Linked DNA regions of Homo sapiens. The protein of the gene in region 3 interacts with the protein of the main gene of each other region in a biochemical or structural test. Each region holds a gene or a part of one and is shown on either strand. Other genes may lie near its edges.

Evidence for each region.
Region 1: the proteins of CYTH2 (region 3) and ARL4D form a complex in vitro, tested with the Homo sapiens proteins (one study listed by BioGRID).
Region 2: the proteins of CYTH2 (region 3) and INAVA form a complex in vitro, tested with the Homo sapiens proteins (one study listed by BioGRID).
Region 4: the proteins of CYTH2 (region 3) and GNAQ form a complex in vitro, tested with the Homo sapiens proteins (one study listed by BioGRID).

Annotation. Positions count from the first base shown.
Region 1 is NC_000017.11:43,394,685-43,401,794, forward strand, and holds ARL4D (ADP-ribosylation factor-like protein 4D), read left to right. Parts: upstream 1-4,308; 5' UTR 4,309-4,409; intron 4,410-4,411; exon of another isoform or gene 4,412-4,468; intron 4,469-4,976; 5' UTR 4,977-5,048; coding exon 5,049-5,654; 3' UTR 5,655-6,453; downstream 6,454-7,110. UniProt on the Homo sapiens protein: Small GTP-binding protein which cycles between an inactive GDP-bound and an active GTP-bound form, and the rate of cycling is regulated by guanine nucleotide exchange factors (GEF) and GTPase-activating proteins (GAP).
Region 2 is NC_000001.11:200,890,020-200,898,133, reverse strand, and holds the start of INAVA (innate immunity activator protein), read right to left. Parts: upstream 3,235-8,114; 5' UTR 3,047-3,234; intron 1-3,046. UniProt on the Homo sapiens protein: Expressed in peripheral macrophages and intestinal myeloid-derived cells, is required for optimal PRR (pattern recognition receptor)-induced signaling, cytokine secretion, and bacterial clearance.
Region 3 is NC_000019.10:48,472,332-48,479,573, reverse strand, and holds part of CYTH2 (cytohesin-2), read right to left. Parts: coding exon 7,131-7,242; intron 6,277-7,130; coding exon 6,196-6,276; intron 5,670-6,195; coding exon 5,557-5,669; intron 5,393-5,556; coding exon 5,244-5,392; intron 4,737-5,243; coding exon 4,625-4,736; intron 1,858-4,624; coding exon of another isoform or gene 1,855-1,857; intron 1,506-1,854; coding exon 1,429-1,505; intron 1,300-1,428; coding exon 1,228-1,299; intron 1,137-1,227; coding exon 982-1,136; intron 452-981; coding exon 364-451; 3' UTR 1-363. UniProt on the Homo sapiens protein: Acts as a guanine-nucleotide exchange factor (GEF). Promotes guanine-nucleotide exchange on ARF1, ARF3 and ARF6. Activates ARF factors through replacement of GDP with GTP.
Region 4 is NC_000009.12:78,021,570-78,028,811, forward strand, and holds part of GNAQ (guanine nucleotide-binding protein G(q) subunit alpha), read right to left. Parts: intron 1-7,242.

The DNA.
Region 1 (7,110 bases), on a different chromosome or scaffold from region 3:
CAACCTCCGCCTTCCCGGTTCCAGCTATTCTCCTGCTTCAGCCTCCGGAGTAGCTGGGACTACAGGCGTGCGCCACCACGCCCTGCTAATTTTTTTGTATTTTTAGTAGAGACGAGGTTTCAACATGTTGGCCAGGCTGGTCTTGAACTCCTAACTTCAGGTGATCCATCCGCCTCAGCCACCCAAAGTGTTGGCATTATAGGCGCGAGCCACTGGGCCCGGCCGGAAGTGGCTTTTTACTTTTTCAAGTCACTCTACTAGTGAGGAATGGAAGGATGGGACTCACGCACTGAATCTCAGTCTGGTGTTCCAGCATGTCCTAAGGGCAACCTGTCTCTCCAGTGTCATCCCCATTTTTGGTCCTTGTTTTTCTCCTTTAAGTTCCTCCTCTCCAATAAAGGCCTGAGAGTTCTATACTACTCAGACACTGCCTAGAAATGCAGGGTTTGTAGGAATTCCTGGCCAACCCAGTATCAACAGAACCCCCAAGGGCCCAAGGGCCCAAGGACCCCAGGCTGGGAAACTCCCACGCTAAGGGTGGAGGTTTGGTTCTCCTACTCAGGGAGCCCTCTGAGTACATTTATTCCATCATGCATTCATTAATTCACACAAGATTTTCTGACTGCCTATGTGTGCCAGGCATGGTGCTGGGCATGGTAGAGCTACAGATAAGAACCAGCTGCTGCCCTTGATCACGTAGTCTGGTGGAGGAGACAGCTCTGAGGAAGAATGATGCTTATCTGACTCAGTGTCACTTAAACCTTGGCTCAGCGTCGCCGCTTTGAAACTTTCTCCTGCACACTCTTCCACCAATCTAAAGTAGTTCTCCAGCCACATGTGGTGGCACGCACCTGTAATCCCAGCTACTCAGGAGTCTGAGGCGGAGGATCTCTTGAACCGAAGAGTTCAAGGCTGCAGTAAGCTATGGTCTCGCCACTGCACTCCAGCCTGGGTGACAGAGTGAGACCTTGTCTTTAAAAAAAAAAAAAAAAGGCCGGGCGCGGTGGCTCATGCCTGTAATCCCGGCACTTTGGGAGGCCGAGGCGGGCGGATCACGAGGTCAGGAGATTGAGACCATCTTGGCTAACACGGTGAAACTCCGTCTCTACTAAAAATACTAAAAATTAGCTGGGCGCGGTGGCGGGCACCTGTAGTTCCAGCTACTCGGGAGGCTGAGGCAGGAGAATGGCATGAACCCGGGAAGTGGAGCTTGCAGTGAGCCGAGATAGCGCCACTGCAGTCCGCCCTGGGCAAAACAGCGAGACTCCGTCTCAAAAAAAAAAAAAATTATTTTTATTTTAATTTTGAAAAAATAGGGAATGCTTCATGAATTTGCAAGTCATCCTTGCACGGGGCCATGCTAATTTCTGTATCGTTCAAAAAAAAATGATTGCTTAATGTACAAATGTTCAGATGTTCTCTGCAGGGATTAGTGTAAGCCCATAGCTTAGTGCTACCTGGACGAGCTGGGCCCCTTTTTTTACCCCTCCCCAGCCCCACCTTCTCCTTCCCATTTGTTCATTAACACCTTCTCTGGCAAACATGAAAGACGGAAGGGTGGGGTAGGATTGTCAGTTTCATTTCCTTTATCAGATAAGTGACAATTTCTGTCTTGGATGTGAGTCCCAAGACAGATTATAGGAGCCATGTTAAAGAAGCTTCAAAGATTGTGGAAGAAACAAGACAACTTGTGTATTTTCAGTTTTTGTGTGTTTTCAGTCTCATAGCCATTGTAACATTTGTTCAAAGCCAGGTTTGGCCAGTTTCTAGCTGGATGACCTTCAACAAATTACCTAACCTTTCTGTGCTTCAGTTTCTTCTTTTTAGACTAACCATACTTACTTCATGGGCTTGACTTGTGTATTAAAAAAGGAAAAGTAAGCAAAGTTCCTAGACCAGAGCCTGGCATGCAGTGGCCACTCAACAGTGCAGTGGTTCTCAACCGCTGGGCCTGCTCCGTCTTCCCCTCTCCTAACTTCACCATGCTCAGGTCTGTCTCCTGTACGTTAGCTGCTGCTGCAACCTGTCACCCTCCAACTTGGGGTGTAACAAACTAATTTCCTAAGGTCTTAATCTTAGACTAATTTCCTAAGGTCTTTAGGGATTTGGGGAGGCTCCCTGCATTGCTGGGGAAACCAGGTGGCTGGTTTTGTAGTGGAGGGGAGAAAAAGGAGGTGGCAAAGCACACTGGTGACAAACAGATGGGAAGCTTATTTATCAGCACTTGATTGAGGAGGGTGGGCAGGAAAAGGCTGGGCCGTGCTGTCTGGCAATGACTTCCCTTCTCCTTTTTCCAATCCCTCTCACACATAGCCCTTAAAAAGATTAATACTGAATTACACAATAAATAAAATAATCCACGCCTGTAAATCCCAACACTTTGGGAGGTCGAGGCGGGCGGATCACCTGAGATCGGGAGTTCGAGACCAGCCTGACCAACATGGAGAAATCCTGTCTGTACTAAAAGTACAAAATTAGCCGGGCGTGGTGGCACATGCCTATAATCCCAGCTACTCGGGAGGCTGAGGCAGGAGAATTGCTTGAACCTGGGAGGTGGAGGTTGCAGTGAGCCGAGATCGCACCATTGGACACCAGCCTGGGTAACAAGAGCAAAACTCTGTCTCAAAAATAAATAAATAAATAAATAAATAAATAAATAGATAAAGTTACAATTTACAATTTCATTCTTCTTTGATTGGCCCTCTTCTCTCCCCCACCTAATTGCTGTTGTCCTTTTGGTCACACTGCCCTTTGTGACATCTCCTTCCTTTCAGGGCTGCCCAGACTGTAGCAGGCTGCAGTGGCTGGGGAGACCCTACTCATTCCTGTGCCCCTCCTAACCAGTCCTAGATAGGGCTAAAGAACGTCTATAAACCTTTTCAGAAGCTTCCAGTTGACACATTCTCTCTCTTCTCTGAAATCCTACAAGTGCTATCTCATGATTTACAAAGACCCAATACATGTGCTGTCTCATTCTGTCATTGCCAGTCTTAAGTCTTAAGCCCTTTGAGGCCTGATTCTACAGCCGAGACATCCTCTATTTCTCCACCATCTCTCTGTCTCATTCAGAGCACACAGTATGAATGAGGTCAATAAACACAGTGTTTTTTGTTTTGTTTTGTTTTGTTTTTGTTTTTTTTGAGACAGAGTCTTGCTCTGTTGCCCAGGCTGGAGTGCAATGGTGTGATCTCAGCTCACTGCAACCTCCGCCTCCCGGGTTCAAGTGATTCTCCTGCCTCAGCCTCCCGAATAGTTGCAATTACAGGCGCCCGCCACCACACCCAGCTAATTTTTGTATTTTTAGTAGAGACGGGGTTTCACCATGTTGGCCAGGCTGGTCTCGAACTCCTGACCTCAGGTGCTTCGCCCACATCGGCCTCCCAAAATGCTGGTATTACAGGCGTGAGCTACCGTGCCCAGCCCAATAAACACACTGGTTTTTTTTTTTTGTTTGCTTTGTTTTGAGACAGAGTCTTGCTCTGTCGCCCAGGCTGGAATGCAGTGGCGCTATCTCAGCTTACTGCAACCTCCGCCTCCCGGGTTCAAGCGATTCTCCTGCCTCAGCCTCCCGAGTAGCTGGGATTACAGGCACCCGCCACCACGCCCGGCTAATTTTTGTCTTTTTATTACTGATGGGGTTTCACCCTGTTGTCCAGGCTGGTGGAACTCCTGAGCTTAAGTGATGTGCCTGCCTCAGCCTCCCAAAGTGCTGAGTTTACAGGTATGATCCACTGCGCCTAAACATACTGTTGAGTGTAACCTCAAATAGGTCATTTAACCCTTCAGGGCTTTGTGTATCTGTAAAAGGCAGACAACAGTCCCTAACAGGCTATTGCAGATAATGGGCTTAGCACTATGAAGCAGCTGTTTTATGGGGCTCCAGGTTCACCTTAGGTTTGACAATTGAATTATGAAAGATAAAGGAGAAAGACTTGTCAGCCTCTCCGAGTAGATCCTTTGGCCGAAGGAGTGTCCATGTGGGGTGGTATCTCGGCCTGGTGGAGGGGGATGCGATGGTAGTGAGAATATTAGGGTATTCATATCTTTCCTCCCGAGTCAAACGTTGCCAGGCACGTTCCTTTCGCCCCTCCCACCCTCCATTCTGCATTAATTCCAAGTTTAATTCCAAATATTAGAGTGTGGTAGAAAAGGTCAAATAGAGCAGCCACGGATTAAGCAAACGCCCCTCCGCGTATGGTGGGGGCTGCAGCGCCCGTAGCTCCACGCTCCGCCCCGCCGCCGCTGATTGTCCCGCGCCTTGTGACGTCACACGCGGGTTTTTAAGGCCGAACCCTAGGCAGGCTCTGCAGAGGCAGCGGTTGGAGGCGCGGTGGGTGTCTGCGGGGGTCTCGCGGGGCGGCTGCGGTGTTTCACCGGGAAAGGCTCGAGGAGAGCGCGGCTCACGAGAGGTAAACGGACCCTGCAGACCGTGCTGAGGCGGTCCCGGTGCCGGGCCGCTGGAGCTGGGGTCGGCCATCGGAGGAGGGCGGGCGGGCAGGAGAGTGTCGCGGGGCGGTGGGGCGAGGGTCGCGGAGTAAGGAAGGGCACCGTGTCAACGGCTTGGGGCTGCGGAGGGCGGGTGGGAGCCGGACTCAATCTCCGGTCTCAGCGTCTGCACCCTAGCTCTTAGTTTGGGGGCACTGTCGACTTCCCCCGTCCCTCGGGGATCTTGCCTGGGGGATGGCGCCATAAGCTCTGAGAAGAGGCTCTAGAAGCCCACTGTCCATGGATCGAGCCCTCACCCCCCACTTGAGTGGCCCAGGACCTGGGAGTCTCTCTAGGTCCCATCGCCCCCCTCACGACCCCCCCAGGGAGTGGGGGAACACCTCTGTTATGCCTTAAAAAAAAAAAAAAAAAGGAAAGGAATTTTAAAAATGAAGGATGGGAGGGTGATTTAGGAAGGGATCAAGAAGTTGCAAATCTTGTGTGTATTATTAAACGTCTCCTTTTTCTCCCATGACCTTTTCTTGGTTCAGATAACCCAGCTGTGCTCCCTGGAACCTTCAATTTCAAGGCCTCCCTGCCTCTACTAGGCGCCTTAGCTCACTATGGGGAACCACTTGACTGAGATGGCGCCCACTGCCTCCTCCTTCTTGCCCCACTTCCAAGCCCTGCATGTCGTGGTCATTGGGCTGGACTCTGCTGGAAAGACCTCCCTCCTTTACCGCCTCAAGTTCAAGGAGTTTGTCCAGAGTGTCCCCACCAAAGGCTTCAACACCGAGAAGATCCGGGTGCCCCTCGGGGGATCGCGTGGCATCACCTTCCAAGTGTGGGACGTCGGGGGGCAGGAGAAGCTGCGACCACTGTGGCGCTCTTATACCCGCCGGACAGACGGTCTAGTGTTTGTGGTGGACGCTGCGGAGGCTGAGCGGCTGGAGGAAGCCAAGGTGGAGTTGCACCGAATCAGCCGGGCCTCGGACAACCAGGGCGTGCCAGTGCTGGTGCTGGCCAACAAGCAGGACCAGCCCGGGGCACTGAGCGCTGCTGAGGTGGAGAAGAGGCTGGCAGTCCGAGAGCTAGCAGCCGCCACTCTCACTCATGTGCAAGGCTGCAGCGCTGTGGACGGTCTGGGCCTGCAGCAGGGCCTTGAGCGCCTCTATGAGATGATCCTCAAGAGGAAGAAGGCAGCTCGGGGTGGCAAGAAGAGACGGTGACCCAAGCCCCCCCTCCCTTTCCTCCCACCTAGTAGGGGTCTGCACACTTGGACAGCAGGGTGGGACCAGCCTGTGACCTCTCAGTCAGACTGGGGTGCAGGACCTGTCCACCTCAATGAAGGAGAGAGGAGCATGGGGTGTCCCGTTTTGGTGCCACACTGGGGTGGGGATGGGAGATGGGATGTCTTTGCATATCTCTCTCATCCTCTCTGGAGAAGTGGGCGCTGCAGGACTGTGGAGACGTAAATGTAAACTGTGACTCTACCTCGACCCTGTTTCTTATTTTTCTTCTCTGGCTAAAAATTTTTAATTGGATGTGTTTGGGGGCGGGGGGATGGAAGTGACTTGGAGAATGTGTTTGGGATGAAATAACTATCTCCCCTTCCTCTGTCCCCCAACTGGGGAGTCTCCCCAGGCTGCTTTTCTAGGAATACCAGTCACATAGTTTTTATTTTTGTGTCTGTGAAAGTGCCAAGAACCCCTCCCCACATTTGTAGATCCATGACCCTTTTTATAAGCTGTGTGTGTCCTCTGTATTATTGTTATTAACTATTTTTTAGCATTTGCCTGTAAGTTATTAAAGACTGATAACTGTAGCTCTTACCTTGGTCTGGGGCATTTTCCTCTCCTTATCTTGCCCCAGAGACAATTCAAGATTTCTATATGGGGTTGTGGCGCAGGGGGAGGGAGATTTATCTTGAAGCTGAATTTGCAAAGCAAGCACTTATAAAAATTAGATTGTGTGTTACGGGATGGCTTGTGAAAATTATAGGGGGGAGTGGAAAACCCCTCAAGCTATTGCCTGATCTCTGTAGTTTTTTGGGTGGGGTCACTTCCTTTTTCTCTGATTTAACACCCCTCCCCTCATCCTCTGGGTCTTACTTGTCCCTTATATCAACTGCTCCTTGCAGATTTAACTTCAAATTTTGCTAGTCTGAGCTACTCCTAGGTTCTTGACCTTGGTGACACCTAAGTCTATATAGGTAAGTCCTCAAAGAGCCATTCTGTTCCCATCCTCCCCACTTCCCCAGTCTTAGGTTGGTTTGATTTTTTTCCTCCTTGTAAGATGTGGTGAGAGTGGAAAGTAATTCCTCCCTGGCCTTAAGTCACCTCTGTGTACTCAATCCTGCTGACTGGCTCACTGGCATGATGGCAGCGGCTGGTGCTAGGGAGGCCTGGGCTGGATTGAGCCAGCCTGGCCCTGGTGACTAAGCCATGAGTTTTCCAGCTCTGGGAATGGTAGCTCTTCTCACGAGAGGGGCAGAAGTAGTAGCTGTTTGTGCTTGGTGGCAGAGAGGACTGCTGGACATACACCCTCCAGACTCCAAGATAGAAGGGGGAAGACATAAGCCCCCAGTATTTGTGGTGATTGTAAGAATAAAATGCTAATATTACAAGGGCTTGAGTGCCCCTACTCACCAGCACCAGGGCCAGCTATGTCTGATAACAGAACCCT
Region 2 (8,114 bases), on a different chromosome or scaffold from region 3:
GCCTCACCAGCAAACCCTGTTCTCAGTGGGCTCTCAGGGGCCCAGCCTAACTCCCCTCTGGGCCAAAGTCCTCTAGGCCTAAGGGGGTCGACAGCTGTGGTAGCCACAAGAACCGCTCGACTGGGGAGAAGGGCAAGAAGGAAAAGAGCAGAGACAGGATAAAAAGGAAGGGGACAAAAAATGGGATGGGATAACAAAGAAAGGAGGAAGGAAGCCCAGCATGGTGGCTCACGCCTGTAATCCCAGCATTTCTGGAGACCAAGGCAGAAGGATAGCTTGAGCCCAGGAGTTCAAGACCAGCCTGGACAACTTAGACCCCATCTCTCCAAAATGAAACTTAGCTGGGCATAGTGGTGTGCACCTGTAGTCCCAGCTACTCAGGAGGCTGAGGCAGGAGGATTGCCTGAGCCTGGAGAAGTCAAGGCTGCAGTGAGCCATGTTCACGCCATTGCACTCCAGCCTGGACAACAGAGAGACCCCGTCTCCAAAAAAAAAAGAAAGGAGGAAGGGGAAGACATCTTTATGGGACACAGCTATCCTCAACCCAAGAACCCAGGAGGTGTGAGGCATGTCCTACGCCCCAGTGGCTGAGGACACTTCAAGAAGTGGGCAGGCACATGGCCAAGGCCCTGGTCTGGGGCCTCCGAAGTCCAGGACGCCCACTCTCTGAATTGGCGCCCTGGACTCTGAACTTCACATCATCTGCAGATATGTGCAGCCACTGTATGCCAGAGAGCTGTCCCAAAGCCCTCAAACAACTTTCAAGCCATCAATTACTCCTGGGAGACCACTGAAGGGGAATCAGCCTAGATCCCCTACACCCCACAGCCAGGGGAGACCCAGGGCTGTGTCTATCAGGGTTGCCAAGAGTTGACAGGAGAGGGGCAAGCAGTGACTAGAGCAGAAGCTGTGCAAGGACAGAAAGGAGATCACCTGCTCCTCTGCCTGCTTCGGGGTGGAGAACACTTGGGTGGTACAGGTGCCATCCCATTGTGTCGGCTCAGCTAGGGACCAGTCACCCAGATAACACCTGTGCCCACCCCCTCTCCCTCCTCACCAACCCACACCCCTGGTTGGGGTCCCAGCTGGCCAGGGCCTGGCAGCTGCTGGCTGCAGCAGGGGTGGGAGGGGTGGGCGGAGCCCATGCAGGTGGTTGGGTCTGGAAAGAGAGCTCAGCCACCTCCTCACTGAGTCAGCCCATTGAGCAAGAGTCCAAAAGTCCTTCCGAGTTTCTGTCTGGAGCCTATCCTGCCTCCTCAGAGCGCGGGGCCGCAGGGTGGGGGAGGTGAGCTCCACCCCTCCTCAGGCAGCCAACACGACAGAAAAGTCGGCCTTGGGAAAGCTGGTAACAAAGCAAGGCCAACAGGGAGAGGGGACTGCTGTCAGCCAGGTCCCTGGTGATACCTCTCCACCCATCAAGATGATAAGAGCAGGACGATCAAGAACTTTTATAGACCTACATAAACAACACAGCAACCACAGGCAGCAACAATCAAACACAAAGCCCTGAAAGCAACATGTACCTTGCACTTTGGAATTTCAATTATTCAAGGAAGTCTAGAGAATGCATGGGAGAATTATTTTTTTTAACTTTATGGGAGGCCTTTGCAAACATGCCAAAGTTCTGAAAGATTGGCCATATATTCTGGAACCCCACCCCGCAGGATACTTAGGATGACTATTAGCTCTGCACTGTCCATCTGTCCCAAACTCTATCCCTCGTAGAGATAAGAACAGGACAGAGGAGCAGGCAGCTCACCCCCACCCCTTCCCACCCACCCTAGCCATCCTCCCACCCTCCCCAGAAGCCAAGAGCAGGGTGCAGCCAGAGGTAGGAAGCAAGGTGGTCTCAGCTAGCATGCTGAGTGTGTCTGCTTTGCACAGAGGAGGAAGTAATGTGGGAGGGGAAGCCATTAATTAGTCACGCTTGCTAATTAATTATTAACCACTAAGTAGTTGCCTTGGAAAGTTGGGCCAACTCAGCCCCTGCTTCTCAGGGGCTCTGAGACTGTTGCAGAGGAGTGGGGACTTACAGGGACAGAGGGGTACCTTAGCACGCCTCCCGTCTCCGCCAGCTTCCCCTTCTCCCAGCTCAGCCCAGTCTCTGACTGCCAGCATCAAAGGGGAGGCACTGATCTTCCCAGTGGTCCCAGCCTGATGCTGGGTCCTCTCTGGGATGACTTGCTGCCCCAAGTAGAGCAAAGAGAACAGCGTCAGATGCCCAGAGCCCCTGGCTGTGGGCTCAAGGCTTGGTTCTGCTGCGGTCTGTACTACCTTGGGGAAGTCACCAGGCCTCCCGGGGCTTCCTTTCCTCCTGTGCACAATAAAGACTGCACAGTGTCTAAAGCCTTTCCAGGTCCCCGGTCTGAATCTCGACCTCTTGGTCAATGTCAGGCCAAGAAGGAAACCCGTACAGCCACATAGCGGACCCTCACATCTGCCTCTGCCGAGGCCGCCCTCCACAGCTGTAGGGAACCTGCCCCAGAGTCAACAGGTGAGAGCGAGGGCACCACCCCCACCCAGGAGGCTATGAGTCTTAAGTGTCTAAGGCATTGCTTTTAGATAAAGGCAGTTCAGGTAACATCCCCACCCCCTCCCTAACACAGGGATCCCTCCTGGGCCTCTTCAAGCTCCAGTACTGGGCCCTAAAAAGCAGCCCACCCGGCTGAACAATGTCCCCAGAAAAAGGCAGAGGAGACCAGAAGGGGCACAGAGGGAGGGAGGGAAACTCCAGAGCACCTTCCCTCAGGCCGGGCCATGGGGGATCCTCCTCTATCCCAAGTGTGTCCCCCAAAGCCAGGTCTCAGGCCTGCCTGTCCCAGCTCATCTCTGCTTGCTCTCCCTCTGGTGGAAACTAAGGCCTAGGCAACCACAAGAACAGGCTCCCGTCCAAGCCCACCAGCACCCCTCTGTCATCCCTACACACCAGACATAGGCTGGCGGGGGTGGGGGTCGGAGGGGGGTGATGGCCACTGCTTGGGCTCCTCCACTCCCAGGCCAGCCTGCTCTCAGCCCCAAAGACCCATTCCACCTCCCCCGCCCTCACCTGCTTCTGGGCTTTAGTCCAGGAGTTGAAAAACAGCCCCTGCTTCCAGTCAGGGGGCTCAGGGCCCTCACATGTCGCCTCAGGGTCTCCCAAGCCACAGGCCTGTGCTCTCTCTCCAGCTGACGGAGCTGCTGGCCGTCCGTCCGTCTCGGCTCACCTGCCTACCTTGCCGTCCCTCCCAGGCTGCCGGGCCAGGGGAACCAGGTTACTTGTTATGACTTGAGTCAGAGGGGAGGAGCAGGTGAGCAAGTCCTTCCCTGAACTAATCCCGTGCAACTGGTGCCAGCAGGCAGCTCCTGGGCCTCTGCACTTCCGGGGGGCAGGAGGGTAGCAGGGAAAAAGGGGCTCCCATGGAGGAATCCCCAAAGAAGACAACAACAAGAGTCATGTCTTCATGGCCTCAAGAGACCCTAGTACAACATTCTGAGCTGTGAGGTACCTGCGTGCCCTCCTGTCCTGACCCTGGCTCTCCCTGCCTTCCTTTGACCTCAGTTTCTCTTTCCAGAAATTGAGGCCTGTTAAGCACCCCGGAAGCAAGGTGAAATGTCCACTGTCCATGGAAAAAACAAGCAGGACATTTACAAACTGACAGGGATGGGTCACTGCTCTTCCCCACATATGGAAATGAAGACCAAGGCCTGGGTTTTATCTCTCCCGAGTGAGGATTTTAAAACCTCAGGCAAGGCAGCTGGAATTCCAATATGCAGAAGTTCTAGAATCCTAGAGAGAGAGGATCAGGCTGTTCTTTTTATCCCAGACATTGTCCCCCAAGGGTATCGAGGCCATCACTTCTCTGTTGATTATTTACATCCATCCCCCAGCAACGCATGTTCATGGGGCACTGACAGGCACTGACCTGAGCCCAAGTCCTGTTTCCTACTCCACAGGAGGTCCACTGTGACCCCAGACCCTAAGTCCACTCCCCAAATGCAAGGAGCCAGAGACCAAAATGGAACTTATTTCCTATAAAAAATAAGCCTCAAGATCTCCCATCCCACCGACCCCCAAGCAAATGGGAAACTGGAATCTAGCCTATTTCAAGGCGGAAGCAGAGCTAACGCTGACTGTTGCCTGGCCTGTCCCCAGCAGGCTGCACCCCTCAAGTCTTCATCTTACCACCTCCCTTTCCCCCCACTCTCTGATCTTCCCACCATTCCCCCGACCCAGATTCCAGTGCCTCAATACATGTCTGGATTGCTTCCCCTCCCCCAGCCCCTAAAAAGTCCTGTCCCCACTCCCTACCCCCAAGTGCAGGGATGACAGAGGAAGTTTGCTTTCACCAGGCATCTCCTGTGGAGCGGAACTCATGGGGCTGGAGTCCCCCAGCATCCCCCACTGCTCCGGTACACACACCCAGCACACCTTCACATTCCTGTACACACCCTTTTTCCAAACAATGCTAGCCCCAGAGTGCTCCAGGCTGACCACCTCATTTTCTGCCCAGGCTGAGGCTGAGGGGCCCTAAGAGGGGACAGTTCTTCCTCCCCCCGCCCCATTGGGAGCTTGTTCTCTGGGTCTCCCAAAGAGCCTGCAGCCCTGCCCTTCCCCAGTCCTCCGTGACACACCGTCCCTCCCCATAGAGGCTTGGCACTTTCTTACAAAGTCAAACAGAGAGGGGTTGACTCTGGGCATAAGCGGCCCTTCCTCCACCTTGCCCATCTCCAGCTCCAGGTGGGGGTTGGTGGAAGTTTCTACCAGCTGTGAATTGGCTCACAGTTCACATTTCTTGAGCATAAAATAAAATTAAGAAGATCACTAAAAAAGTCAATTATATGAAATAAAGTTCTAAAAATATAAAAACATAGCAATATATATGCTTCTTTATTAACATTAAGCAGGGTCTAGCAGTGGGTAATTTCACACAAGGGCTGAGTGTAAACAACATTTCAAGACTGCTGTGACTGCAGTGTGATATGAAACTATGAATTCTATTAATGGCAAAGTCACAGGTACTGCCAATGCTACTGTGATTTGTTGTCTTCATAACTAAAGGTGATGTTAAAATCTGTTAAAGGTTGGTGAAAAACAATGATATCTTTTTTTGCCTCACCTAGTTTACACATCCTCTGAATTCCATCTACAGATGCCTAATGCCAATGAACCCAGTTAAGAATCCCTGCCCTCAGGTAATCCTCCATCTCTGACTTCAGGGGAGGTTAGTACAGATGCTCAATCTCACTGTTTGCATTGATCCTTTGGAATTCTCAAAAACACCTTGCTCCCCCAAATTCACGCTCAATATTTCCCAACCTTGCAGAATCTGAGGTTTGGAAGGGAGCTGGCTAACCAAACCTCCTGCCAAGAACCCCGGGGAGCCATCCTTGGAGCTCTCTGATGGCCATGTCATTCAATTCAAAATACCAATGGGGGAGGTGGGCACTCCAGAGGCCAGCTGGGAATCTGAAACAGCTCCCCACTCCAGTCAGGCCGGGGAGTCAGGGGACTGATGCCCCAGCCCCAAACCCCAGAGTGCCGTCCAGACCACCAGTTGGTGAGGAAGTGGTATTTCCTTGCAAAACATTATAGTACTTGGAATCTGATCTTTGCAGACAAGAGCCCTTCCCCAGGGAAGAGAAACTGGACCTCTTCAGTGTTTTCGTTTCCTGAGGAAAAGTCCCGAGTCAGAAAACTCTTCCCCAGCGCTGTAGCCATCCACTCTCCATTTTTTTTAAAAAAAAGTTCCTTCTTTTAGGGTCTTCTGATAACACCAGATTGGAAGTTCTTTAAAGCAAGGGCCTCGTCCTACCATCTTCACATCCCCAACAGCCCCCAGCAAAGTAGTCTCAGGCACTGCTAAAATCTTACTTCAAGAATTAAGGAATCAATGGCCAGCGCTAGAGACAACAGTGAAAAAAGGAAGAAGTGAAATAGCCCGGGACCCTCCAGGCAAGAGGGGTAGGAGATGGTTCCTTCACTGTTTTCTTACTCGCGTCTGCTCCCTGCTCACTAGGAAAGGTGTTCGCCTCCACTAAGCAAAGGTGAAGTGGGCTGGGACAGGGGAACTCCAAGCCAGCTTGGAATGCGCCCTGAAATGAGACCTCTAGGCTTTCTCTAAAAAGCCCCTTTGTCCTGTCCACCCTGCTCCCCTCCCCCACTGCGCCCTCCACATCCAGGCTGGCCCGAGACTTTGCTCCTTTTGTTTGGCTGCTTTCTGGCTTCCCGGAACCTGGCCAGGAAGATCCACAGGCACGAAGAAGGTCGAAGGAGAAAGGTTGAGGGACTGGAAATGTGCATTTTTGGTAGGAACTCAGAATTCCTGCCCCTTTGAAAAAATTACCCCATTCCCTGTAGGGCACCCTCCGCTAAGGCTGAAGACCGTGGGTTCAGGGGCCCGATCCCCCGCCCCAGTTCACCCGCACTGGGTGCCCCGAAGTTTTCCCGCTTACCTGTCCCATGGAGCTCTGGCGCCGCCCGCCTGCCCCTGCGCCCTCCACTCCAGCCTCGCAGCTTCAGGACCTGTTTGTCCAGGCCATCTTCCCTCCCCCCGAGCCTCCCTGCGGCCTGCCCTCCCCGGAGGTATTTCATTTAACTTCGGCATTTGCAGCATCCCAAATGTTAAAGATCCCAAGACATCTGTCCCCTGGGGCATACCAAGGCCCAGAGGAAAGAGGGGAAGACGCAAGAAGGGACTGAAGAGTCCGATCCAAGAGTCGGGACGGGGCCGCACGCGGGAGTGACGACGTACCCGCAGGGGTGAGCGAGCTGCGGGAGCAGCCGCTCGAGGGGCGAGGCTGTCCCCTTTGCCCCGCTTTCGGACGCCCGCGCGGTGGGACACCCCTGGCGCCGCCAGTTTCCGCAGCCCAGGCGGGACGAAGCTTCTCTCTTGGTCCCAGTGCCGCCTTTCATTCGCGCGCTCTGGCCTGGCTGGGGCCAGTTTTCATTCCTGGAGACCCCTAAGTGGAAGAATGAAAGGAGCCTGCGGAAGGGCGCTCCCCCGACCCTGTCCTCCCCGCAGGCGCCCTCCCCCTCGCTGTGCGGCGCTGCGGGTCGCGCGGGGATGGCCCCTCTCCCCGGCCCTGGCCCCGGCCCACTCCCACTCCTCCCGCCGGGCCCGCTGGCTGAACTCCGGCTGGCTGAAGGGAAGGAGCACCCTCCCGGCGAGCGCCTCCTGCTGCCCGCTGCGAGCTGCTGTGTCCCCGTTCATCCATTCATTCACTTCCCGGTTTTCAGTTGTTCAATAAACATTTATTGAGCACCTACTAGTGCCCAGCACGATGGATCAAAGCTCAAGCCCCATTCACTGGAGGATTCTCCAATCTAGACGAGTGATGAAGCAGCACAGTACCTGAAGTAAGGGCTAGGACCCCGGGCAAGAAGAGGGAAGGCTGACCCAGGCTGAGCCTCGGCAAAACTTGGCCAGAGGAAGCAATACCAGAAAATAAGAGAGGGACTTGAAACAGCAGTGACAGGTGTACAAAAGCACAGCAGCAAGGGAGCACAGCAGGTTCCAGGAGCTGCAGGGAGGTTAGGGTTTGGGATGAGGAAGGAGTAAAGGGAAAGAACATGGAAGAGAGACGAGGCTAATTCGTCAGTCAGTGGCTCATCCAGAAGCAGGGCAGCCAGACGCAGAGGCTCACGCCTATAATCCCAGCACTTTGGGAGGCCCAGGCCAGAGGATCGACTGAGGTCAGGAGTTGGAGATCAGCCTGGGCAACATTGTGAAAACCTGTCTCTACCAAAAAATAAAGAAATTGGCCAGGAGTGGTGGCACGCACCTGTAGTCCCAGCTACTTGGGAGGCTGAGGTGGGAAGATCACTTGAGCAGGGAGGCGGAGGTTGCAGTGAGCCAATATCCCGAGACTACACTCCGGCCTGGGAGACAGGGCAAGACCTTGTCTCAAAACAACAACAACAACAAAAAACCCACAACGAACGGCCAGGCGCGGTGGCTCACGCTTGTAATCCCAGCACTTTCGGAGGCCAATACGGACGGATCGCCTGAGGTCGGGAGTTCAAGAATGGCCTGGGCAACATGGCAAAACCCCATCTCTACTTAAAATACAAAAAAAATTAGCGAGCATGGTGCTGGGAGCCTGTAGTCCCAGTTACTCAGGAGGCTGAGGCATGA
Region 3 (7,242 bases):
CACCATATTAACCTTCTCCCTTTACTCCACTCCTGCTGGGCTCGGGGTGAAACCAGAACAGACCCACCGGGACAGCCCAGGCAGCACCCAGAGACAGGCGGGTCCAGGCCCCTGTCCAGGGAAACAGGCTGGCTCCACGGAGCACCTCGACTCTGTCAACCCCAAGAAATGAGGGGGTCAGCAGGCCAAGTGGTTAAATAATTAATAAGATTACCAACAGCGTGTTAATTACAAAGAACAGTGAGGAGCTAGAGGTGGTGAATTTTCCAAACAGGGAACCAGGATCCACAGCCCCAAGGCCCAGGGGTCCGGCCACCCAGGCGGGGCAGCTCCGTAATAAATAATGGAGTTGGGGGCAGGGGGTCAGGGCTGCTCCTGCTTCTTCTTGACTGAAATCCGCTTCTTTCTCGCTGCCAGCATCTCATAGAAGGGGTCCACACTCACAGCCGCCCTGCAGAAGGGGAGGGGTCCCAGGATGAGGGCCAAGGAGTCCAGGCCTCCAGCCCCTCCTCCCTCATACCCAGGAGGAGTCTCAGACCCCCGGCCCCTCCTCCCTCAGACCCAGGAGTCCAGGCCCCCGGCCCCTCCTCCCTCAGACCCAGCAGTCCAGGCCCCCGGCCCCTCCTCCCTCAGACCCAGGAGTCCAGGCCCCCGGCCCCTCCTCCCTCACACCCAGGAGTCCAGGCCCCCGGCCCCTCCTCCGTCAGACCCAGGAGTCCAGGCCCCCGGCCCCTCCTCCGTCAGACCCAGGGGTCCAGGCCCCCGGCCCCTCCTCCGTCAGACCCAGGTGTCCAGGCCCCTGCCCCTCCTCCGTCAGACCCAGGAGTCCAGGCCCCAGCCCCTCCTCCGTCAGACCCAGGCGTCCAGGCCCCAGCCCCTCCTCCATCAGACCCAGGCATCCAGGCCCCTGCCCCTCCTCCATCAGACCCAGGAGTCCAGGCCCCAGCCCCTCCTCCATCAGGCCCAGGAGTCCAGGCTCACTGGATGGACTTGATCCACTCGTCCTTCTCCTCCTGCGTGGGGGCCGAGATCCGGTACACCATGTGGTTTCCCTCCACCACTCGGCCGTCCGCCTCAGTTTTGCAGGCTTTGATGAGCTGCCCCTTGTTGTTGGGGATGTAAAGTTCAAAGCAGTTCTGGGGACGAGAGAGGAAGGGCGCAGGTAAGAACCAGCCCTGGGCAGAGGAGGCCCCGCCCTGGCAGGAAGGTGTACAGAGAGGGTCTTACCGGTTTCCGGGGGTCGTCCACCTCTCGGATGCTCAGATTCTCCAGGGGGATGATTCCTCGGGGCTCCTTGTCCTGAAGAAGCAAGGTGGACAGAACTCAGACTTCCAAGTCCTCACCCCACCCCACCTCCCTCAGCCCCAGGAGTCCAGGCTCCCAGCCACTCCGCCCAGGACCCCAGAGCCCGGGTCGGGTCACGCTCACCGTGGTGTACTCAAAGTAGTAGAGGCAGTTGTCTGTGAGGATAAACCAGCGCCGCTTCCACGTCTTCACCCGGCCCCCTGAAAGGGAAGGGGTGGGAGGGGGCCTGGGCTCAACAGGGGGACAGGGCCTCTGGGAGATGGGAGGGGCGTGAGAAGCAGAGCAAGAGCGGTAGAGGTGGGGCTCCTGGGGCCTAGACAAAGCCGCTGCGTTGGGGGAGACAGACAAGCAGGGCCAGGCATGTTGGGGCTCCAGGAATCGTCCACCCCCAGCTTGGGGCTCCACATTTTCTGAGTCTGTCAGTCCCAGCCCAGGAGCCTGAGCCCCCAGCCCCCTCCTCCTGTGGGCAGGAGGCCAGGGCGCCAGGGCGCCAGGGCAGCCCCCTCCCCTCGTCTAGTGATGGGAGACAAAGACAGGTCGTGTACCTACCTCCTGGGGCAGACAGCGAGAAAGCAGGCAGGACCAGGTGCAGGAGAAGGGAAGGCGGGAGAATGGAGCACCCCCAAGAGCCGCAGGCGACAGAAACAGGGTGGGCACAGGGAGGGGTGCGCAGGGGCAGGACAGAGAGGCAAACACAGGAGAGAGGGAAAGACGCAGAGAGGAGGGGAGGGAGAGAGAGGGAAGAAAACCAGTTACATCCACGAGGGTGGGGATGGCCGGGGCTCCTCCCTCCCAGAGAGGCCAAGGGCCATGAGCCCCGGGTGGCAGCCTTGAAAACCCCTTGCTTCGGTACAGGGCCCCAGCCTACCCCCTAGGGTCTGTCCTAGGCCAGGAGCATCCTCCCTTGACATGGTAAAAGTGCCTCTGCCCTGGAGGAGGCCCCCACAGGACAGAAGGCAAAACCCCCAGCCCTTGGTCTGAGGTGGGTGTGAGGGCCCATCTCAGCTCCTGCACAAACTGGCTGTGTGACCTCAGGGCACTCTCTTGGACTCTCTGGACTCCAGCCTGGAGACTCACTCGGGCCTACACCTTCCTGTGGCAAAATGACCTGCTGCTGGCTTCCTTGTGGGCCCAGGGTTAAACAATGACAGTAAGAATGGCTTTTATTAGGCATGGAGTAGCAACCACCATCACCAATCTCCACTCCTGTATTTCCATCTTTTAAGGAAGGGGTCCCTCTAACTGGCACAAAGGGAACAGAGGCCCTTTGGTCAGAGATGTCCCTGGGGCTGGGCAGCCTTAGGTGGGGCTCAGAACCAAACTGAGGCGTGAGCCTCTGGGAAATGGGAAAGTTACTGCTCACAGGAGCAGTTTTTGTTTTGTTTTGTTTTTTTGAGACTGTCTCGCTCTGTCGTCCAGGCTGGATTTGCAATGGTGTGATCTCGGCTCACTGCAAGCTCCACCTCCTGGGTTCAAGCAATTCTTGTGCCTCAGCCTCCCAAGTAGCTGGGATTACAGGTGCCTGCCACCACGCCCGGCTAATTTTTGTATTTTTAGTAGAGACGGGGTTTCACCATGTTGGCCAGGCTGGTCTCAAACTCCTGACCTCAAGTGATCTGCCTGCCTCAGCCTCCCAAAGTGCTGGGATTACAGGCCTGAGCCACCGTGCCTGGCCTGACAGCAGTTTTGAGGGAAGCAGTTCCTCGTGATGCTGGCGCCTTCCTGCTTCTCTTTCTGGCCCGCTCACTGCCAGGGGCACCTCGAGGACTCTCAATTTCCCCCAGCAGTCTGCCTCCCTTGGATCGAATGCAGGGATCTGGACTGGGGTGTTGGCTGGACAGTGATTTGCATGTTTTATTTTATAGAGACGGGGTCTCGCTCTGTTGCCCAGGCTGGACTGCAGTGGCGCAACCATGACTCACTGAAGCCTCGACCACTTGAGCTCAAACAATCCTCCCACATCACCATGCCTGGCTAATTTTTTTATTTTTTGTAGAGATGGGGGGTATCATTATATTGCCCAGGTTGGTCTCAAACTCCTGACCTCTAACAATCCTCCTGCCTTGTCCTCCCAAAGTGCTGAAATTACAGGGGTGGGCCCCTGTGCCCTGCCTGACTTGTGTATTTTACATTTACCAGGAAACCCTGGCATCTGTTGAGGTGGTGATGCCCTGGTTTAAGAGCACAGTTCCACATGGGGAGGCCCCCAAGACTCAGAGGCCAAAGCTGCCCTGTCCAACCTCCTTCCAAGAAGCCTGACCTTGACTCCCTTCACTGAGCTGAAAGCTTCCTGTGGGCTCTCCTGCTGCCGCGGGAAGCCTCCACTGCTGTGCTGGACTGTAACTGCCCAGATGTGTCTCTCTGGAGCAGCTGTGCACCGTGTCTCCATTATAAACCACATCTAACACGCAGGTGGCACCTACTGTTACCAGGCACGGCTCCAGGCCAGTAGCTCTCAACCTTGACTATGCATTGGGAGCACCCGAGGAGCTTAAACGATGACTGATGGCCCTTCTGCTCCTGAGAGCCTGACTTCAGGAGTCTATGGCCCAGCCACCGGAGTTTTCGAGTTGCCCAGGCAAATCTCATGTACAGCCAGGGCTGAGAACCACTCTAGTCCTTGTGCTAACCCCTCATCATGCTACGATCCTGTCTGATCCATGCTAACCGACCTTGAATGTGCCAGTGCCACGTGTTATGACGAAGACTCCCCCCTCCATCTCTGCTGGGTTTCCCGACTCATCTGCACCAGCCCTGGCTATTCCCTCCACAGCTGGAAGCCAGAATCTGGGACAGGTTTCCTGGCCTGTTTGGCTCTTTTCTGCCTGTGGGTGGTGTTTCGGGAAGGATGGCACCTGGATCAGCCAAGTGCTCTGGGCCTGATGCCTCGGAGTGCGGGGTCAGTCCTGCCTGGAACCCTGGGAGTTCTTGCCAAGGGGAATAGATTCCAGGGGTTTGGCTCCCTCGGGCTGGGTTAACGCAGTGGAAAGAAGCCTGAGTGAACTCTTCTCCCACGAAAGGACAATGTCAGCTGCCTCTCACTGCCTCCTCAGCCCAGCTCAGGGCCTGGCACAGAAGGGCTCCATCAACATTTGTGGGTCAAGAGAAGGGGTTGGGAAGTACTTACTACAGGCCAGGCCCAGCACACAGGCCTGATTTTATTTTCAGCCCCATTTTTTGGGTGTGGAAAACTGAGGTTCAGAGAGGTCGAATCATTTGCCTCAGTTCAGGCAGCAGGTGTGTGCGGAAGCTGAGTCCAGGGCCCAGGCCCACAAATGTCCTCCTGCGGAGGGACCAGCGGGGTCGGGAGGGCACGTACCCAGCTTCAGGAGCCAGCCCTCCCGGTCCGGGTTGAAGAAGGTGTGGGTCAGGTCATTCCCGTCATCCTCAGGAATCTTGAAGGGCTCATTTCGGATGCTGTCGTACAGGTTCTGAGGAGTAAAGGCTGCATTAGCCATTCGAGCCCCCTGGGGCCCCCCAGGGTTACTCAGGGTGGGGGGCAGCGAGACCAGGGATGGGATGACTCATAGTGGGGAAGAGAGAGGGGTAGTGGGGAGGAGAGGGAAGTGAAAGGCAGAGAAGTGGAGGGAGGCTGAGGTGGCGGAGGAAAGAAGAGATGCCCTGGTGATAGGTGGAGGAGCCGGCTACGTCCTCAGAGAAACAGACAGATGGGGAATGAGGCCAATCGAGGGCCGGAAAGCCCAACAGCCAGAGACAGAGAAGACAGACAGGCCAAAATTGTCAGGGCCAAAGCCTGAGAGAGACAGTCAAGAAGAGAAGCACCCAGAGAGAGAGAAAAAGATCACACACGAGTTGGCATGATCGCACCATCTTGGGGGTGAGGGCAGACAGCTTGGGCACTAGGAGACCACAGGTGGGGCGGGGGTGTCTGTGGCAGGAAGAGGGGCAGGGCTGAGGGGCAGGGAAGGGGGACTGACCCTGAGCAGCTCCTCAGGCAGGTCCCCGCCCTCGTTGATGCCCCGGTTCATGGCCACAAAGCGCTCCAGGCCCGGCTTGTCCCGGACATTGGGATTGTGGAGACTGGTGTTGAGCATGATGACGGCGAAGGACAGCACATAGCACGTGTCTGCACCGGACAGGGCAGGTGGTGACGACCCAGGCATGTCAGTCCCCAGTGCCCCCATTCCCCAGGACCCAGGATTCCCAGCTCCCAGCCCCCTCCCTCCCTCAGACCTAGGAGTCTGGGCCCCAGTCTCCTCTTTCCCAGGACCCAGGATTTGGGGCCCGCACCTGTGGACTGGAAAACCCCAGGGTTGCACAGGCAGTATCGCTGGGCGAAGGCCTCCATCATCCGGTCAATTTTCTGGGCCTCTCCGGGTAGGCGAAAGCTCCATAGAAACTGCCTGGGTTGGGGAGGGGCCAGGAATGGATGCCAGGGCTGGTGGGAGCCTGTCCCCACTCTCAGTCCCTGTGTTAGGAACTGGTCCACGAGGAATCCCGACCTTCCGGCCTCAGCAGTTGTTTCAGGTATGGTCACATGATCCAGTCTCACCAATGGGCATTGGCCACGGGAGTGTTGTGAATCCCTACAGAAATAGCCTCTTTCTGCTAAGTTCGCTAGACAGGTCTGGGGGTTGGTTGAGGCTTGTTATCAGGTAAGCGGGTCTGCAGAGAGCAATGCTGACACAGTGGCAAATACAAGAGGCAAAGAAAGTCGACTTTCTGACCACCATTTGAGCTCCTGGATATAGCCATACCTGAAGGAGGCCATAACCCTGAACTTTTATGGTGCAGGACACACTCAGTTCCCTAGTTTTTGTTTCTGTTTTGCTTGTTTCTGTTTTTTTCTTGAGTAAGGTTTGTCACTTGTAACTAGGAAGGCCCTGACAGGTACATTCCTGGCGTTCCAAACCCCTCCCCCTCACTCACCTGAGGGCCTGCACCAGATTGAGGTCGGTGAACTCATGCAGATCCACAAAAGCATGGAGCACTGCCAGGTTCAGTTCTTCCCTGGAAGGATGGGACAAAGACACATACAGTTTGGAAAGGATGGGGCAGGAATGGGCAAAGGGCAATGCCCTGGGGAAGTCGTGCCCCCTCTACTGCACCACAGCTGCCCACTGCCGAGGGTGAAGTTTCCTGCTGGACTCCCACACAGGCCTGCCCCCAGGGTGGGGGATGCTCAGAACACACTCTTGGGAGGAATATCTGGCTTGGGAACCCTGCTTAGGCCAGACCTTTGTACAGTTGGGAGAAATGCCGCAAACATGTATGCTACCTACTGTCACCTCTCTCAAATGATCCCCATGCTCCCCAGGTATCCAGACACAGCCCCCACATCCCCCAGACATCCAGAGATGCTTCCCAAGCACCCCAGATCTCTATAAATCCCTGATTCCCAGACGTCCACAGATGGCCTCCAATCATCTGATGTCCAGTCCTGTGCACCCTAGGCTTCCAAATGACCCCCACAACTCCTAAGCTCCCACAAGGGCCCAGCGGTCCCCACAGCTCCCAGATGGCCACCCAGTGCCTATGCACAGCCATGGTCTACCCACGGTTCTCAAGCTCCCATGATCCTTGAGAGATGTTCTCTACCCTTCTCAGACATAAATGGATGCTTCCCCACAACTGCCAGGTAATTCCAGAAGGCCCCACATCCCCAGATGCTCTCGGTTGGCCGCAGGCTCCCCTAGCCCATGTCAGTCCATTCTGTCACAGTCCAGTCAGAAGGCTGATCTGCCAGGGCCCCTCTGCGGGGAGGCTGCAGGGCTGTTCCACCTGTGAGCTGCCAGTGTGAGGGCAGGAGCTGGGTCTGGGGGGTGGGAGGGAGGGGCCCCACAGGAGCTGAGTGGTGACCGTACCTCTCCCCCAGGTAGTCCCCGATGGCTGTCTTGTTCAGCCCCTCGCCCTTGTACAGGAAGCGGGCGATCTCCTCGGGTGTGTTCTGCAGCAGTTCATTCTCCACCAAGAACT
Region 4 (7,242 bases), on a different chromosome or scaffold from region 3:
TTTCCTGGAAAGCCCTAGAAAAGAGACCTGCTAGCTCCAAATATAAAGCAGCCCCCTAGATGTGCCCTGCTGGGCATTCCCAGTGCTCAGGCTCATTGGCCAGCCAGCTGTCACTGAAAATGGCAGAGATGGGCTTGGGCAACAAGATTATTTGCAGGCAAAGGGAAAGCAATGTTGTGTTTGGCTTCAGTCACACATACACTAAAGAGAAGCAACGCTTAAAGCCCAATGAAGAAAAAACAAACAAAAAGAAGTAGTAAGTCAAAGGAAGCTGCTTGAGGATACGGAAGAAAAGACCCAGTCCTGAGCCGAGCAGCGCTGGAACACTGCGTCTCTCGGGCTCCACCTCTGTGCCTCCCAGGATATCGCCCTTCCTGCAGGAAGCAAGAGACCCATGCTGATATGACAGGAGGTTTCTGATACCATTTCTTGTGAAGACATTGCAAACTATCAGCAGCATGCCAGGCGGCACCAGGGGAGCTCTGGACAGACTTGCTAAGGCTTCATTCACAGGCCCCCCTCAAAGTGCTCCCCACTGCAGGGCACTCAGAGTTATTACAGAGGTCAAAGAGAAGAGCCAGGCCAACCCGAAGGAGCCCACCAGACCTGGCAATGCCTCCTAGTAGAGCCCATCACTGCTGGAGACAGCAGCAAGCTTAGACCCTTCATCCAGGGGTGAGTTTGGGCAGAAAGTGGCCGAGACGCCAAAGCTGCAAAGGGGAAGGAGAAAAAAATTCAAAGTTCAAATGGTCCTTAGAGATCATCTGCTGCAATCTCCTCATTCTACAGGTTTTTATAGAAAAAGCAAATGATCAAAATACCCTGAGGTTAGTTATGTGGGAAAAAAAGATTCAGTAAGCAGGGCAGGAATACTTCACCCCACTTTCAGTCACAGATTTTAGAAAAGATATATGTAACGAATCCAAAATGCACAGCCATAAAAGGTGCTTATTTAGCCAAAAATAAAAAATAAAAAACTTTCACAAAATTAGTCTGCCATTGTTTTTAAATTATTACATGTCTTACCAATGCTCAAAAATATATCACAAGAGTTACAGAGACAAGAGAGTTAAACCTGGCAATCTTTTAAAGGCAAACTGAACAAAAATTAAAGTCATCTTGTATTATTAGAACAAGTCACAGGAAATGGGTCATCTCTCTAGGACAAGAGGAAAATTGCATTTGCCATCTGCAGAAAGAACGCATACTATAATGAAGGAGCTCTGCAAAGCGCAGGTCCTAAATATCAATTCACATGGCAAGAAAATACCAAAACAAACCCACCACAAAAATGTACTCAGGCTGATTGGGTATAACAAAAGTAAAGGCCACTGCTATTGCCATCACCCTTAACTATCTGTATGGAAATACAATCAGAAAAAGATGTTAAGGCTTGCAAGTCACTGAGAAGAGGGTTTTCAAATCATTAAGTGAGGAAGATGCCTACACATGCCTACAGCACCTTCTCCCCTTCCAGCATACGCACTGCATCCGATTCTGAAACCCACTGGTCCGTGATAGATTATCCAGCACTGGCTCACTAACTCTCTGCTGGTAATCATGAACCAATCTCAAGTCCCTGCCCTCTGGAAAAGGAAGGAGGATTTTACATTGTGTTCAGTAACAATTTATTTTTGCTTTACGGACCAGAGTAAGTATTGCAAAAGAAAGTTAATCATTGCCTAAACACACACTCACAAATTCCTTCCTTTGAATGTATTAAAGCACCCAACTTCCCCTCTCACCAGCTCACAGCCACATGATGTCTCACAGAAGCACCAACTTGGAAGTTCTCTAAATCGTATGCAAATGTGCAAGTCAGAGAATCTGAGGAACCTCTTTAGCATCTGTTTAAGAAAGATGTGATGAGGAATTAAATGGGTGGGTGGTATTCACATGAAAGGGATGGGTAGGGGGGCTACAGAAATCACTGGTAGACTGAAAAGGGACTGGGTAAATCACAGAAGCATTCCTCTTTAGAAGCAACTAGATGCCTGCAGTTACCAGTAAATACATGGTGGTAGAAGATCTCACCAATCACCCTGTTGCCCCTACAGTAAAAGAAAATGTAGGAAAGAAACAATAAAAATGAAAAAAATTTTTCAACATAAAAAAGAAACAAAAAAATTCTATTTCTATTTTTTAGCAAGTGATGCTGATTAAAAAAAAAATTCTTGGAAAGCACAATTAATTCATGATTTTAGTTTTCCAAAGGGAAAAAAAATGAGGCTATCTCCTAGAAATATATGTAACTATGTGTCTAAACATCACTGTTCGCTTCCGGTAACAGAGCCAAAAAGTCTGGCTAGATCTCTTTTTCTTTAATTTGTGGGTCAATTATGTGTGTATAAACACACACATATTGTATATGTGTGTATATACACACACACACACTATAATGGCATTAGTAACATTTTCGTTCCCAACTGCACCACAATCCATTACTTGAAAACAACTATTTTATTTCTAAAGCAGACATATTGTTCACAATCCATGATTAATCCTGTAATAAAGGTGCACAGATTGTCAGATTTCAAAGAACTTGTGTGTGTAACAGCTTTCCATTGGAACAGCTGGATCAATTGCTATTGGCTTTTAACTGGAAACAATATGAGAATGTTCAACCGAAACATTGTCCCAAGAGAACAAATGAGAGGAAGGCAAGAAGGCAAAAACTGTTCCATCTTTAAAACGGAATTCCTTTCACTGTGCGCCCGGTGGCCCACAAAACAGCAAAGAGGAGTGGAAAATGGAGGACATATGGATGATGCCTATTAGAAGAAAGCAGGGAATTTAAATTCACTTCTTCCGATTACCCTCCATTCTTTTTGGAATCCAGCTTTCCACACACATCCCTAGTTACTGATAATAGAATCATCAGGAATTGCGATAAAGATACAAGAGCAAGGATCTTTGCCTTCACGGAGCTTCCAATCCACTTAGAAACACAAGGTAAAATCATCCGCATTCCCCAGTCCTGTGATCCCCAGGAAGCTCCTACAATGGCCTTCAGATTATTTTGTCTCTTTCTGTGTATGAAAACCCAATAGAAAAGCCAAAGCCAGGAAGGATAAAGTCAGAAGGGCATGTCAGTACGAGGACATCAGCTACAATACAAGAACTATGCAAAGTGCTTAGTCTTTCCTGTCGGCAAATAAGACATAAGGAGCATCTCACACAGCACATTATTTGGCACATAGTAGGTGCTCATATTTGTTCATTTGACTAGCATTCTGCATGAAACTGTTCCTTCTTAAGTTATGCCTGGTTAAAAAAAAAAATTAGAGGAAATATTTTTTAATAACTGACAAGTATATGTTGAAAAAATGGATTTGAGATATCTTCATAATTTGATTTTTAAGTAATACTAATTTTGTTCTTTAAAATTAACCATAAAGGCTTTTAACAAAATATTCTGCACTGATTATGGCTATGTATAAAGGTTAACAACAGAGCTGTATAGTTAATCCAATTTGGGATTCTCGGCACTGCAACATGGACATTTATTTTTGTTTTTAAAGCCCAAATTCATGACCACCTAGGATGTGTTAACTCATTTCATCAGTATGCCTAGGTCCTTTTACTACATGTTAGATGAGAAATCAGACAGATTTTTACATATCGGTAATGTAACAAATCAAAGGTGATTGTTGAACAACTTCCTATAATTTTATTTTTTACATATCGGTAATGTAACAAATCAAAGGTGATTGTTGAACAACTTCCTATAATTTTATCAGTAACAGCTATTCACACAAAATAGTGTTTGGGTCTGAGAGCAGCTCTTTCTTTAATGTTACTCCATTCGGCAGAACAAGAGTAAACGTTCACGGTTTACTGTAGTCAGTTATTGCCACAGATTTAATTACCAACAATCGCACATTTTACCTTCTATTGCTATTTCACACTTCACTAGGATTAAGTCTGCAGAGATCTTAACATAACTTAAAAGGCATTACAAAAGTTTTCCTTTGAAAAATGTGACTGCCTCCCGTTCCAACCAGGAAATTTGACTTTAAAATTTGTTGCTTCACAAACTTGTATTTTCCTCAACCCAATACAGAGGAAACAGATTCCCTCCACCTTCTGAGGGAGAAAGCAATCCTAACCTCCTTATAAAATGGCTTCTGTCTCTTCCAAGATGTACCCTTTGAGCTCCCTATTTTCCCTCTACAACATCCAATCAACATTTCTACTAATATTAACAGAATATTAGTAGAATAACTCCCCTTAAAGAAAAATTAATATGAATGCTGGAATCAAAACCTTCCTTAGAGAATCTTGTTAATTTCTTTTCAAGTGTAAGTGTGCCTGGATCATAAAGAAAAATCTGTTCCTTTTTTCTGCTAAGTTTAGCATAGCACGCAGCCTCACAACTGCAAAGGCTGTTTCAGGTCCTAAAAAATTCATGGGTAATAAAAATCGTAACTGTTTTTAATAGGCACTTCTGAAAACTGAACATAAGCCATTTCTCCTAAAGTAGAGCTGAGATGGTTTTCTTTTTTAATGAAAAAGATTCTATCAAATTTATTTATATTAAAATGGCTACTAAATTAGTCTTCTGGTTCTCCTTTCTAAACTTACTTTAGAATATGTGAATAGATAAACCTGCAATATTTTCACTGTTCAGCAGGGTTTTAATTTGTGTCAGATTTGCCATATGAAGAAATAGCATATAGGGGTAAGGATGGGACATTATATGGAGATCCAGACGATGAATCTACGTAGTTCAATGCAAAAAACTTATTCCGAAGGCTTTGTTATACAGTCAGAGCCACAGTTTTGATTTTTATGAGGGATGTTCCCACTTTGTTCTTCTGATATAAACTATAAGTACTTTGTTTCAACAACAACAAAAAAGGGAACTGTATCCAAATAAATCCTGACATTCAGAAACATATTCAACACTTGGAAGCTAAAAGAGTAGCAAAAAATAAAACCTGTTGGTCCTTAAAGCAGTCTCATAAACACCATATTTTGCTATTTTTAGGGAGCTGCTGTTATTGAGGTTACTTAGACCAAGGCTTTCACTCAATGGTTCTGAGTCACCATCCTAGATGGCACTGACCTCTAGGTTAATTCAGGCAATCAACATACCCACTCCAGTGAACCCTACTGAGGAGCAGTGGGAAGCGTGCTCTTTTCCAGATGTGTAGAAATTAACTTCCCATACAGCTTAAATTGGCTACAGCACTTCCAGCCTTCCAAGCCCCTTCTTGGTCTAAAACTGTATAGCTTTCAGTACAAATGCATATCCTTCATATTAAAAATGTTCTAACTGCAATTCCTGAAATTCTGTATTTAATTATGGTGGTTTTCCTCACGTTATTGTATAAGTCAATCACAAACACCCATTTAGTCATCACCTGTGCTCTACAGAGTATTAAAAATTCACTGAGCCCTGTACCATGGAGAAAAATGTATGGTAAAAAGATGAGAGGGTTAAACTAGCCTCTACACAATAAAAAGTAATAAAAATATAGAATGGTTTTTCTTTTCTTTAAACTTTCATACTTTAAGCATGACTGTTACCATTCTCAAATACATCCAGTACAGAACTGTAATACACTGGTTCAATGTGTGATGCAACATCTTACATTAACACTTCCTATCCTGGAATGCATTTATAATCAGTTGGCTCAAAGAGTTACACACAATTTTTTTAAGATCCTGATTTTATCTGCCACAGATAAAAACATTATATATTCCTATGTTTCTATACATTTATTCATTATTGTCTGGTCTAATTTCCAGCAGGAGGGTAATAAATAAATTCATTTACTCAGCCAATATTTATTGAGAGCATTCTACGAGTTAGATACTGTGCTTGAAGCTGGGATTTAATAGTGAGCAAAACAGACACAACCTCTACTCTCATATGTTTGCAGTGTACAACAGGAAGAAAATCTGTGCTCATATATAAAATTCATTTCAGAAGACCAAGACCATTTAAGGTCTTCCATTTAAGACTGGCCTGTCGCGACCAGCCTGACTAACATGTTGAAACCCCAGCTCTACTAAATGCAAAAAAAATAGCCGGGCGTGGTGGTGCATGCCTGTAATCCAAGCTACCTGGGAGGCTGAGACAGGAGAATCGCTTGTACCTGGGAGGCGGAGGTTGCAGTGAAGTGAGGTCGCGCCATTGCACTCCAGCTTGGGCAACAAGAGCAAAACTCCATCTCAAAAAAAAAAAAAAAAAGACTGGCCTAAACTTTGCCTGTTTCAATAGCGATAATTCAATCAATTAAAGGGGTTTACTAAGTCTTCCTATTTGATAATTAAGATCTAAAGAGTAAAAGACTTCAAAAACGTGTAAAATAAGAACAGGTTAACAGGAAAAAAATGTTTCTTCTAGGAACTGAAAAAAATTTCAGGATAACTATATGTAACATGAAGCAGGCACTCAAGGCCACTTGTATTACACAGACTTACAAATTATATTAAATGAGGTTATCTATGTACCACCAACAGAAATATTTAGTGAATATTCATGAAAATTAATCAATTAAAGAAAATATGTGCTTTATACCTACAAAATATATAAAAACATTAACCAAGTTAAAATGAAGTATGCTCTTGTATATCTACATAGAATACAAAGAGTAAGTTTTGAGTGTCAAACACTAACATAAATGAATTCAAAGAATGAATAAGTTAAAAGACAACAAGAAAATAATTCAAAATTTAATGTAATATTCTTATAGTGGTAGATTTCAGGGTTCACGTTTCTAAAGTTAAAATAAAAATATATAATATATAAGCATACGGAATAAATTTGGAAGACTGGCATAGTTGCCGAATATAAATCAACATAGCCCAAATTTTACTGCCATACTTTCATCTAGTCAGGTACCCACTAATTGTCTTTTTAAATGTCTCCATATTATTAATACACAAAAGTAAATAATTACATGAGCAAATGCAAGGGTACCCACTTTTATCCCTGTCAAACAAATCCTCTTCCATTAAAATGGTATCAAGCCTTGAACTAAAATTTACTTTGAAAACAATTTTACATTGATTTTCATTTCAAAATACTTATTCCTCCATAAACTAGTTAAAAATATTAGTAGATCTTTAAACTGTGAATGGATACATCTTATAATCTCCTCTAGATAGGTTTGTTTAAATGATAGAAGGAACCAGAACATTCAGTGTACTCATCAAAGCAGCGAATCAGGAATTCCTCAAATGAAATCCCTCCCTAATATCTTCCTTGTTGAAATCAACCGTCCTGGATTC